Regions from separate parts of the Homo sapiens genome. Here region 2 is linked to region 1. Evidence: fine-mapped expression QTL. Tissue or cell type: whole blood. Region 1 holds a variant in brackets; the other region holds the start of a gene. Each region is shown on its reference strand, or each on the opposite one. Region 1 overlaps NLRC5 (NLR family CARD domain containing 5). Region 2 holds the start of HMGN4 (high mobility group nucleosomal binding domain 4).

Region 1 (4,381 bases):
AGCCTTTGCTCTGTGCTAGGCACTGTGCTACAAAATGTTTTTCATGCACCATCCCATCTCATTCTTGCAATGACCATATGAGTTGGCTATTGTTACAGATTCGTTTTAGGAACGAAGAAACTCTGGCCTAGACAGTGTGCATGTGTGTGCTCCATATACTTGCCCAAAGTCCACCAGCCTCTATAGACAGCCTGGATCTGTGGTTTCAGCCCATGATTGACAGAGAGACTGAGAGTCCAGAAACCACAGACAAGAGGAGGATCCATTTGGACTCCAGAGGTCCTGTCAAGGTATGGAGCTTCCTCTCTTGCATTGCAGGCCATTATGTTCTGATATTCAAGATTCTTATCCAGTCCTCTTGGCAGAGGTTTGCTAGACTGGTTGGCCTCTGCTCCCCCAAAAGCCCAATCCCCTCCCCGGTCCTCCTCCACTCTTACTCACCTGAGATTCTCTATCTGCCCACAGCCTACCAGAGCCTCAGGGCAGTGGGGCTCCAGGGGACAGCCATCAAAATCCAGGTGGATGGGGGCCTCCCTGTGCTCTAGGATGTTGGTCAGGGTGGCCAGGTCGGTGCAGGTCAGTGGGAAATTGTGGAAGGGCAGTTGATAGGGGAGGCTTTGTGCGGTGAGACTGGCCAGCTCAGGCTCCTGTGTCTCATCCACACAGTGACACAGCTCTACAACCTTTGGCCCTGTGAGCTTGCGGGTGGCCAACTTCTTCAACACCTGCACTACAGCAGCCTGCTTGGCACCCACACAGTCCTCATTGCCCTGCGCCAGGTGGCTAAGGAAGGGGCGGCAGGTGCAGGATGCCAGGCCCGCCAGGAAGGTGGGGAGGTGGTCTGAGAGGCCCAGTCTAGCTTTGGTCCGCTGTACCCAGCGGGAATGGAGGGTAACATACTGGGTAAGTGTGTCTTTGTTCACCTTGGGGCTGGCCATCAGGTGCAGGGCAGCAAGAAACTCCTGCAGGCTGAGGTGGGTGAAAGCATAGCCTGTCTGCTGGTGCCCAGGGCCTGTGCAGACGCAGAAGGAAGTCAGCAGGCTGTGAGTGGCCCCAAAAGCTATCAAGGGTGGAGCAATATCTTTTGCATAGAAGATAACCTTCCCTGTCTCCAGGCCCCTCAGGGCCACCTCCCCCAGGTCCAGTAGGGACGAGGTGGGCAAGTGCCCAGGGGGGCTGAGGGCGAGCACCATCTGCATATAGAGCTGAGTCATGTTGGGCAGGAGGGCCACAGACTGGCCTGGGGCGTGGTCAGGAAGCAGATGGTGGAGGCAGAGACAGGCGACTTGGCACAGTGCGGGCACCGCACACAGGCTTCGGAGACGTCCATTTGTCTGTAACTCCACCAGGGCCCCCTCCCGCGATGGCTGGGCGCTGAAGAAGTGATTCACATATTCTTCCACCCGTGGCCCATCAAAGCCCAACATGTGGACCATGGCTGCCTCTGCAGGCAGGCAGGCAGGCAGCTTCCCTGGACGGGAGGTAGCCATCACCCGGCAGCCAGGCAGGAGGGTCCCATTGCAGAGATGGGAGAAAAGGGTGAGGACTGGGCCTGGGCCATCAGGACCCATAGGCTGGAGGGCCTCATCTAGCCCATCAAAGATCAGCAGGACTTGGTCAGCGTTCTTCTCCAGGTACTGGAAGACAGTGTCGTGGTCCGATTCAGGGCTCAGGTACAGATCAAAAAGGAGCTCGGACGGTGTCAGGAACCTCGTGATCAAGTTGAGCTGGCGGAATTCAAAAAGGAACAGGGCCTGGAAACAGTTCAGATGGCCCTCTGCCCACTTCTGGCAGAGCCGGTGGGCCAGCGTGGTCTTGCCCATGCCAGCCTTCCCCAAAAGCACGGTCACCCTCGGGCCCTTGTTAACCCTGGTGTTGAAGAGGTCCGAGATGCTCACGTCAGCACCATCTTCCACCTTGACGTCCCCCATAATGGCCCCCTCCGGAGTGTCTAAGGATGCTGTGGCCCGGCGCAGGATTGGAGGGACATAGACCTGGTGGAAGGCGTGGGGCTGCCCTGACCCAGGGATTTGGCTCCTGTAGCGCTGCTGGGCAGAGGTCCGCAGGAGCTGCAGGTACTTCTTGGCCAACTCTGCAAGGGGCAGGGACATGGCATGAGGAGAGGACCCCCCGGCCCTCTGCTCATGTCTTCTTGCCCCAGTATTGGGCTGTTGGGAGCCTGTAGCCCCAGATGTGTATGTATGATGGGGTGAGGGTGGGGGTGTCAAGAGCACCATAGGGGGATCTGTGCCACCCCAACTTCCAGAAGGAATCAGTTCTAAGGGAGCATAGGCTCTCCGGTAGCTATTTAAACAGGCAGGTGGGAATGGGGAAGTGTGGGTCACGGTTCTATCCATTCTGCAATAGTACACGTGGTGTAAGGGTTCAGTAAGATGG[G/A]GGGAGGGGAATAGGGCACCTCCTTTGCAACATCTCTTTTTTTTCTTTTTTCCCAGAGACAGAGTCTCAGTCTTGCCCAGGCTCCAGTGCAGTGGCACGATCCTAGCTTACTGTAGCCGCAAACTCCTGGTCTCAAGTGATCCTCCTGCCTCAGCCTCCTGAGTAGCTGGGACTACAGGTGCACACCACCACACCCAGCTAATTTTTGTATTTTTAGTAGAGACAAGGTTTTGTCACGTTGGCCAGGCTAGTATTGAATTCCTGGGCTCAACTGATCCACCTGCCTCAGCCCTCCAAAGTGCTGGGATTACAGGTGTGAGCCACCGCGCCCAGCTACTTTGCAATATCTTATTGAAACAACCTCTTTCTGTAATATCTGGATCCCCAGTGCCTCTTCCCAATATTTCAGTTCTGCAATGCCCAGGGGTGAGCACTAACAACCTGTAGGCCTAGGCATTACCGATCGGAACTGTGGGAGCTGGGCCCCTACAGTGCCAGATGTTAACCTTTTAATTCCTGGGTCATTGAGAGGTCTCAGGTGACCCAGGGAAAGGGCTGGGGCTGCTTTTGGGGGAACCCTATGGGGAAAGGCCAAGGTAGTGAACTATTTTGAGCGGATGTGAATCCTCTGGTTATAGCCATGGTTGGCAGCAGTGGGGGCAGAGAAGGCTCTAGTTAGTGGGACAACTCGTGGAGAACGAGGACCATTCTGAGAACTGGTCAAGAATGAGAGAAGTCCCCTTTCTTCTCTCACTGGCCTGGCCTGCCCTAAGCAGCTCCATGTCTCCCCATGGGCCCCCAGGGCCTCTGTCTTGAAGGTTTCTCCCAGGCCTCCTCACCCCTCCCCATCCCTGCTCACCCCCAAACTGGTCTCCTCCCTGGGTCTCCTTCAACACTGAGGACATAGGGTGTCCCTGGAAAAGCCTGGACAGCGAAGCTGAGACCTGTATGGTGCTTCCAGCTCCTTCAGCGGAGCCCTCTTCAGAGAAGTCCCCATGCAGCCAGATGGGTGGGGAGCCCCTTCGCTGCCAGCCCAGGCCTCTCCTCTGCCTGTGCAAGACCTCCAGTCCTTTTCTCCTGGAAACTTGCGAGACAAGAGTCACTGGGCCTCTGGAGGCTTATTGGCAGGGGACAAGGTCCAGGGTCCGGGTCTTGGCCCCCAGGCAACCCCATCTCTCTGTTTATGTTCCTCCCCACACTGGTACCCACCTAGCTGCTGCTTCTTGCACTGCTTCCGGCGGGGTGAGGACCCACAGCTCTGATGTGGGCGCTTCAGGCCTGAAAAAGCAAAGGAAGGGGTGGAGGAGTGGGGTCTGGGGATCTGGGCTGAGGGGTTACCCAGAACCTTTGGGGAACTCCAGTCCACAGACAGGTGGCAGGCAGCCAAGTACACCCACATGCAGGGACTGGAAAGGCAGGCAGCAGGCAGAGGCTGGGTCAACACCAGCTTCTATTTGCAGAGTGGACTTCTAGGCACCCCCATTGGAAGGTGGATGTTCTGGGCCTGGCAGTCTTGCAGTCCAGGATGCAGGAAGCAGGGCCAACAGCCAGCAGCCCCCAGAAACACTCAGCTCCAAGCACTAAATGGCCATCTGTCCATCAGGGAAGGACCAAGCTCTATGGAAGCCGCCGGTGGTCATATAAGTGAAGTTCCCAGTGAGTTTGGCCAGGCCTGCAACCTCCCTCCTCTGTTAGGGTTTTATCATCCCGATTTCTTATCACCCACATTTCCTCACTTCCCTTAATAGTTTCTGGAGTCTTGTCTCATTGTATGGATTTTCAACAATCACTTTAATGCCTTTCTGGAAGAGTTTGAGAAAGGAAGAAGGAAAACAAGAAGGAAGGGGACCCAGAAAGGAAGGGAGGGAGAAAGGAAAGAGGACTCAGGAAAGAATTTTAAGAAGTCAAGCAGGGTCCTCCTACAGCTAAGCTAAGTGACCAATAGGAACAGCCCCTGGAGCAGGGCCCTGGGCTCCTTGTCCAG
Region 2 (4,381 bases), not on the chromosome of region 1:
AGCTGGGTGTGGTGGCATATGCCTATAGTCCCAACTACTTGGGAAGCTGAGGCAGGAGAATCACTTGAGCCTGGGAGGCGGAGGTTGCAGTGAGCCAAGATTGTGCCACTGCACTCCAGCCTGGGTGACAGAGCAAGACCCGGTCTCAAAAAAAAAAGAAAAAAAAAAAAAGATTCACAGGCAAGATGCAGTGTGCTACAGAAGCAAGAGGTCACATGGTGTCAGTCACTCTCCAGGGCGTTTGTTCTTCATCTTCCAAAGTATTAGAGACGCAGCATGAGTTTCCACGGAGGTTAAGTGAGAGAGACTGGGAGATGCAGGGGTAGAAAGGAAAGATGAGAAAACGCAGGGTGTCTAAAAGGGTAGGTTTGCTGCTGCAGCTTGCCAGAATGCATCTGCTTTAAAGAGAAGGAGTGAGCCATAAGCTCCCAAACAGTCACCCATCTGTAAAGGTTGGTTAGGGGCACACTCACCTTCCAGGCTAAAGTATTCCTGCTAACTGGGATCGGAGAAAGATGAAGAGGATAAATCCTTGTCATCTCCTAGGACCCTGGAACCTTTGCCCCCTTTCTGGGCACCATAATAACTTGCTTATATTTCTGAGTAGTACAGAGGGGATTTTAAATGAAAATGTATTAGACAGGTTGCTGTTGAGCACATGCCCAAGTTTATTGTCTTGCTAACCAAGATATTATCTTGCTAGCCAAGGTGTTGTCTTGTTAAGGGAACCAGCAAGATGACAAAAGAATGGACCTTTCAAGTCAACGTCTACCCAAGCAGCCTGTTTAAGAAAATGATAAAAAGAAAACAGCTCATTAACATTGTCCTTTTCTTTCTTTTCTTTTCTTTTTTTTTTTTTTTTTTTAATTTTGCGGACCCACCAAAGAATGCAGCCCTTCTTTTCTCATGGTCATAAAAATATCACATTCGGTTGGGCGCGGTGGCTCATGCCTGTAATCTCAGCACTTTGGGAGGCCGAGGCGGGCGGATCACTTGAGGTCAGGAGTTTGAGACCAGCCTGGCCAATATGGTGAAACTCCGTCTCCAACTAAAAATACAAAAATTATCCGGGTGTAGTGTTACACACCTGTAGTCCCAGCTGCTCGGGAGCCTGAGGCACAAGAATCGAGGTGGAGGTTGCAGTGAGCGAGATCGCACCATTGCACCCCAGCCTGGACAACAGAGTGAGACTCCGTCTCAAAAACAAACAAACAAAAACAAACACATCACATTCTTATTAGTCATTTGAGGGAACCTGGAGCAATATGATCTGAGAGGCTAGGCTTGGCTAATCCCTAGAAAAAGTAGTAATACATCTAAGAAAGAAATCCCTCTTAGGGAACACCCGAGGCTGCCAGGTGACACAACAAAACTTTCTCATAAAAGCGTTTGATTAATCCGATTAACTTGTAAGCAAGCCATGTGGCAGAGGTAAGAGGCCAAACACCAAGGCACCAGTCCTGATTCTAAACAAGTGCTGGTCCATTTCTTAACTTTGGGATCCATTTTTTCTTTGTGATGGAATAGCAAAAGGTCAAAGTGGAGGAGGACTCAGCCCTTGGGTGTCTCCTCAACGAGGGTTTCTCGAAGGTAAATTGGGGAGGAAGGGAGAGCCCACGGCAGGTCAGTCCAACCTGCCAGTCACCACCTCTTTAAGGCCACAGCCCTGCGGGAGCAATCCTTTCAAATCCCCTTCCTTCCTTCTTTTAGAACGCCCCTAGAACGCCGATTAGGACTTCTCATCCCGGTCGGGCCTGCGGCTCTCTGTGACCCCACCTCTGGATTCAGCTTTTCCCAGGGATTCACACTCGGAGCTCAGGAGAGATGCTGCGATTACTCTGGAGACGGGAAGACAGGCGGGGCTGACGGGGCCCAAGGCCCCTAATCATGACCGGGGCCAGCTGGCAGGAGGGTCCTAAGTATACGGAGGGCGGCGGGACCCCCCCCACCACGCCCCTCATTTTCCGGGGTAGCGCACAAAGTCTGTGAGGCACTTACCCGAGTCTCGTGGCCGTCCGAGGGGCGCGGGAATCCCAGCTGAGGCCCGTGACGCGCCGGAGCCCTAGGCGTGGGCAGGGCCAGCACCAGCCCTAAGACAGAGAAGACGAGCGGAGCCCGGCTCCGCCAGGAACAGGAAGGCGAGGGAAGGTGAGGATGCGCTTCCGGGGCTGCAGGCGGGGAGCCGCCCCGAGTCCAAGCCGGAGAGAGCTGGTTCTCCCCCTGGCGATACGTGTGTGAGCCTCTGAGGCCCGCCCTAAGCACTGCTGCCCCGATCTAGCAAGACAAGAAGACAGGAAATTTATGACAGCCTGAAAAAGTCTTTAAAAGATACACACTGGAAGAATTTCGTAGTAAGATGAGGAAAAAAAAACGTGTTTCCGCCCGGTTTCGAACCGGGGACCTTTCGCGTGTGAGGCGAACGTGATAACCACTACACTACGGAAACCCACTAAGGGCTTATTTTTCAGAGTAAATAGTTCTTCCTGCCTAGTTCCGTGTTTCTTCGTTCCAAGTGCGTGTTTTGCTGATGTGCGCGTGCGTCTCTGTACCGACCTCTCAAACCAGAAAAACCAATGAAAAGCTCAGACCCAGCCCCTCCAGTGTTCAAACTGAAGCCATAGAATTTATTCTACAAATGACTGAATAGGGAAGAACACAATAGAGACTTTAATTTAATCTCTGAACGGTCCTTCGTTCTTCGGCCAAAATGGCCAGGCAAGGCTGGGCACAACTTGGGTAGGGCGAGCGTTTCTCTGGCGTAGTTGGCGTTACCACGTGGTCAGTGGCAGAATGCTCCGCAAAGAAATGATAACCCCATATGTTGTCGGGAGCTGCCCCTCTTGCTTCTGAGTCTTCCAGGCAAATTTATCTTGCAGGAATTTCCTTACTCCTGCGGAGTCAGAAAGTTGTAAAACGACCCTGCTTACACCGAGCCAGCCAGGAGTCGAACCTGGAATCTTCTGATCCGTAGTCAGACGCGTTATCCATTGCGCCACTGGCCCTGCGCGTACCTTAGGGGCGAGGTATTTCATAAGAAACTAGGTTGTACCCGTAATATCTGGGTGAACGCCTGTAAGCCGCGTTTGCCCGCTGGTCCAGGCTCGCAGCGCATGGACTCTCTGGTAGCTACTTCTGCACACGCCCCGTGGCCTTCATTCCTTTCTCGGTCTGTCTCTGCCGGCTGAAAAATGGCGGTGAAAAGCAAGCCCTGCATCCTCTCTGCCCCAATATCACCGCTCCATTAATGCGTTCGTTCATTCAACCAGTATTAGTGTTCAAGGCACTGCAGATAACGGTGAAGAAAACATGAGAGACCCTTGCCCTCAAGATTACATGGCAGTGGCGGAAGCGGATAATAAAGCATTAAATAAACAAAATAATAGTGATAAGCGATTGGAGAAAAATAATAATAAAACAGGGAAAGAGGATAGGAAAGGCCAGCAGTGAAAGTGATGAATGAGGGATAAATGCTGATATCGGGGAAATGAGTGATCTGGAACAGGGAAAAATCGCTAGGGAAAAGGCCTGGAGGTGGAAGCAGGCTTGGGAGTTATGTTGAGGAGGCCGGTGCTCAGTGGAGAGGAATAGGAGATCCTGGGAGACCACCTCCAGCTTTATAGGCCCTTGTAAGGACTCTGGCCAGCTTTACAGGCTCTTGTAAGGACTCTGGCTGGTATTCTGTAGGAAACTGGAAGCCGTTGTACGGTGACGTGGTCTGAGTTTTCATTTGTCTCTCTGTGGGTCTTTTTTTTTTTTTCTTCAAATATTTTACTAAGCGAAACTGTGCTAGGCCTCCTCACTGCATGCTGCTTCTACTGCAGGGCCTTGATCTCAGAATTTGACAGCTTTATAAGGAGCATCATCAACCCGGACACTCATATGAATGTTCACTTTTTCACTTTGAAAGCAAACAAACGTCTCATATGTGTGTGTTTTAGTTTGTCCATATTTCTGAGAATAAATCATCCCCATGCCTGGTGAGCATTTTAAATAAGATGAGGTCTACTAAACAGAAGTAAAACTGCCTGATATTGAGAATATACACTTTGAGATTAGAAAATATTTGTTTTCAGTTCATAAGGTTTCAACAGCCGTTACAAAAAATATTCTGCTCTTTCTGCATAAATATTAAGGTAGACCTAGGTTATGGATTACTCCCTAGGCAATAGCATAGGGATCTTCTCGTTAGGTTTTGTACTATGGACCCCAAGGGCAGCTTGGTGATTCTGGACTCTATCTCAGAATAATACTTTTAAATACACGAAAGAAAAGATAAATATGTAAGATTTCAAAAGAAAACTAATTATGTTAAAATAGGTTACCAAAACTTTTTTTTTTTTTTTTTTGGAGACAGAATTTTGCTCTTATTGCCCAGGCTGGA

What was found. PIP is the estimated chance that this variant, and not a neighbour inherited with it, causes the effect.
Region 2: HMGN4 starts here. The variant in region 1 is fine-mapped to the expression of HMGN4 in whole blood (TOPMed, PIP above 0.99).

What each region holds. Positions count from the first base shown.
Region 1 is chr16:57,023,079-57,027,459 of GRCh38, reverse strand. NLRC5 (NLR family CARD domain containing 5) reads right to left here. Exons shown (of 49, transcript NM_001384950.1): 5 at 3,607-3,675; 6 at 442-2,092. Among named protein-coding and RNA genes, the nearest start is that of NLRC5, 36 kb to the right of the region's middle. RefSeq lists an enhancer at 491-1,009. The variant G/A (reference allele first, on the strand shown) is at 2,398.
Region 2 is chr6:26,536,119-26,540,499 of GRCh38, reverse strand. It overlaps HMGN4 (high mobility group nucleosomal binding domain 4), which reads right to left and starts at 2,134. Exons shown (of 2, transcript NM_006353.3): 1 at 1,999-2,134. TRR-ACG1-2 (tRNA-Arg (anticodon ACG) 1-2) reads right to left here and starts at 3,002; the gene lies at 2,930-3,002. It overlaps TRV-CAC1-6 (tRNA-Val (anticodon CAC) 1-6), which reads right to left and starts at 2,446; the gene lies at 2,374-2,446. RefSeq lists enhancers at 1,514-1,923, 3,184-3,848, 3,938-4,381 and silencers at 2,414-2,463, 2,857-3,150.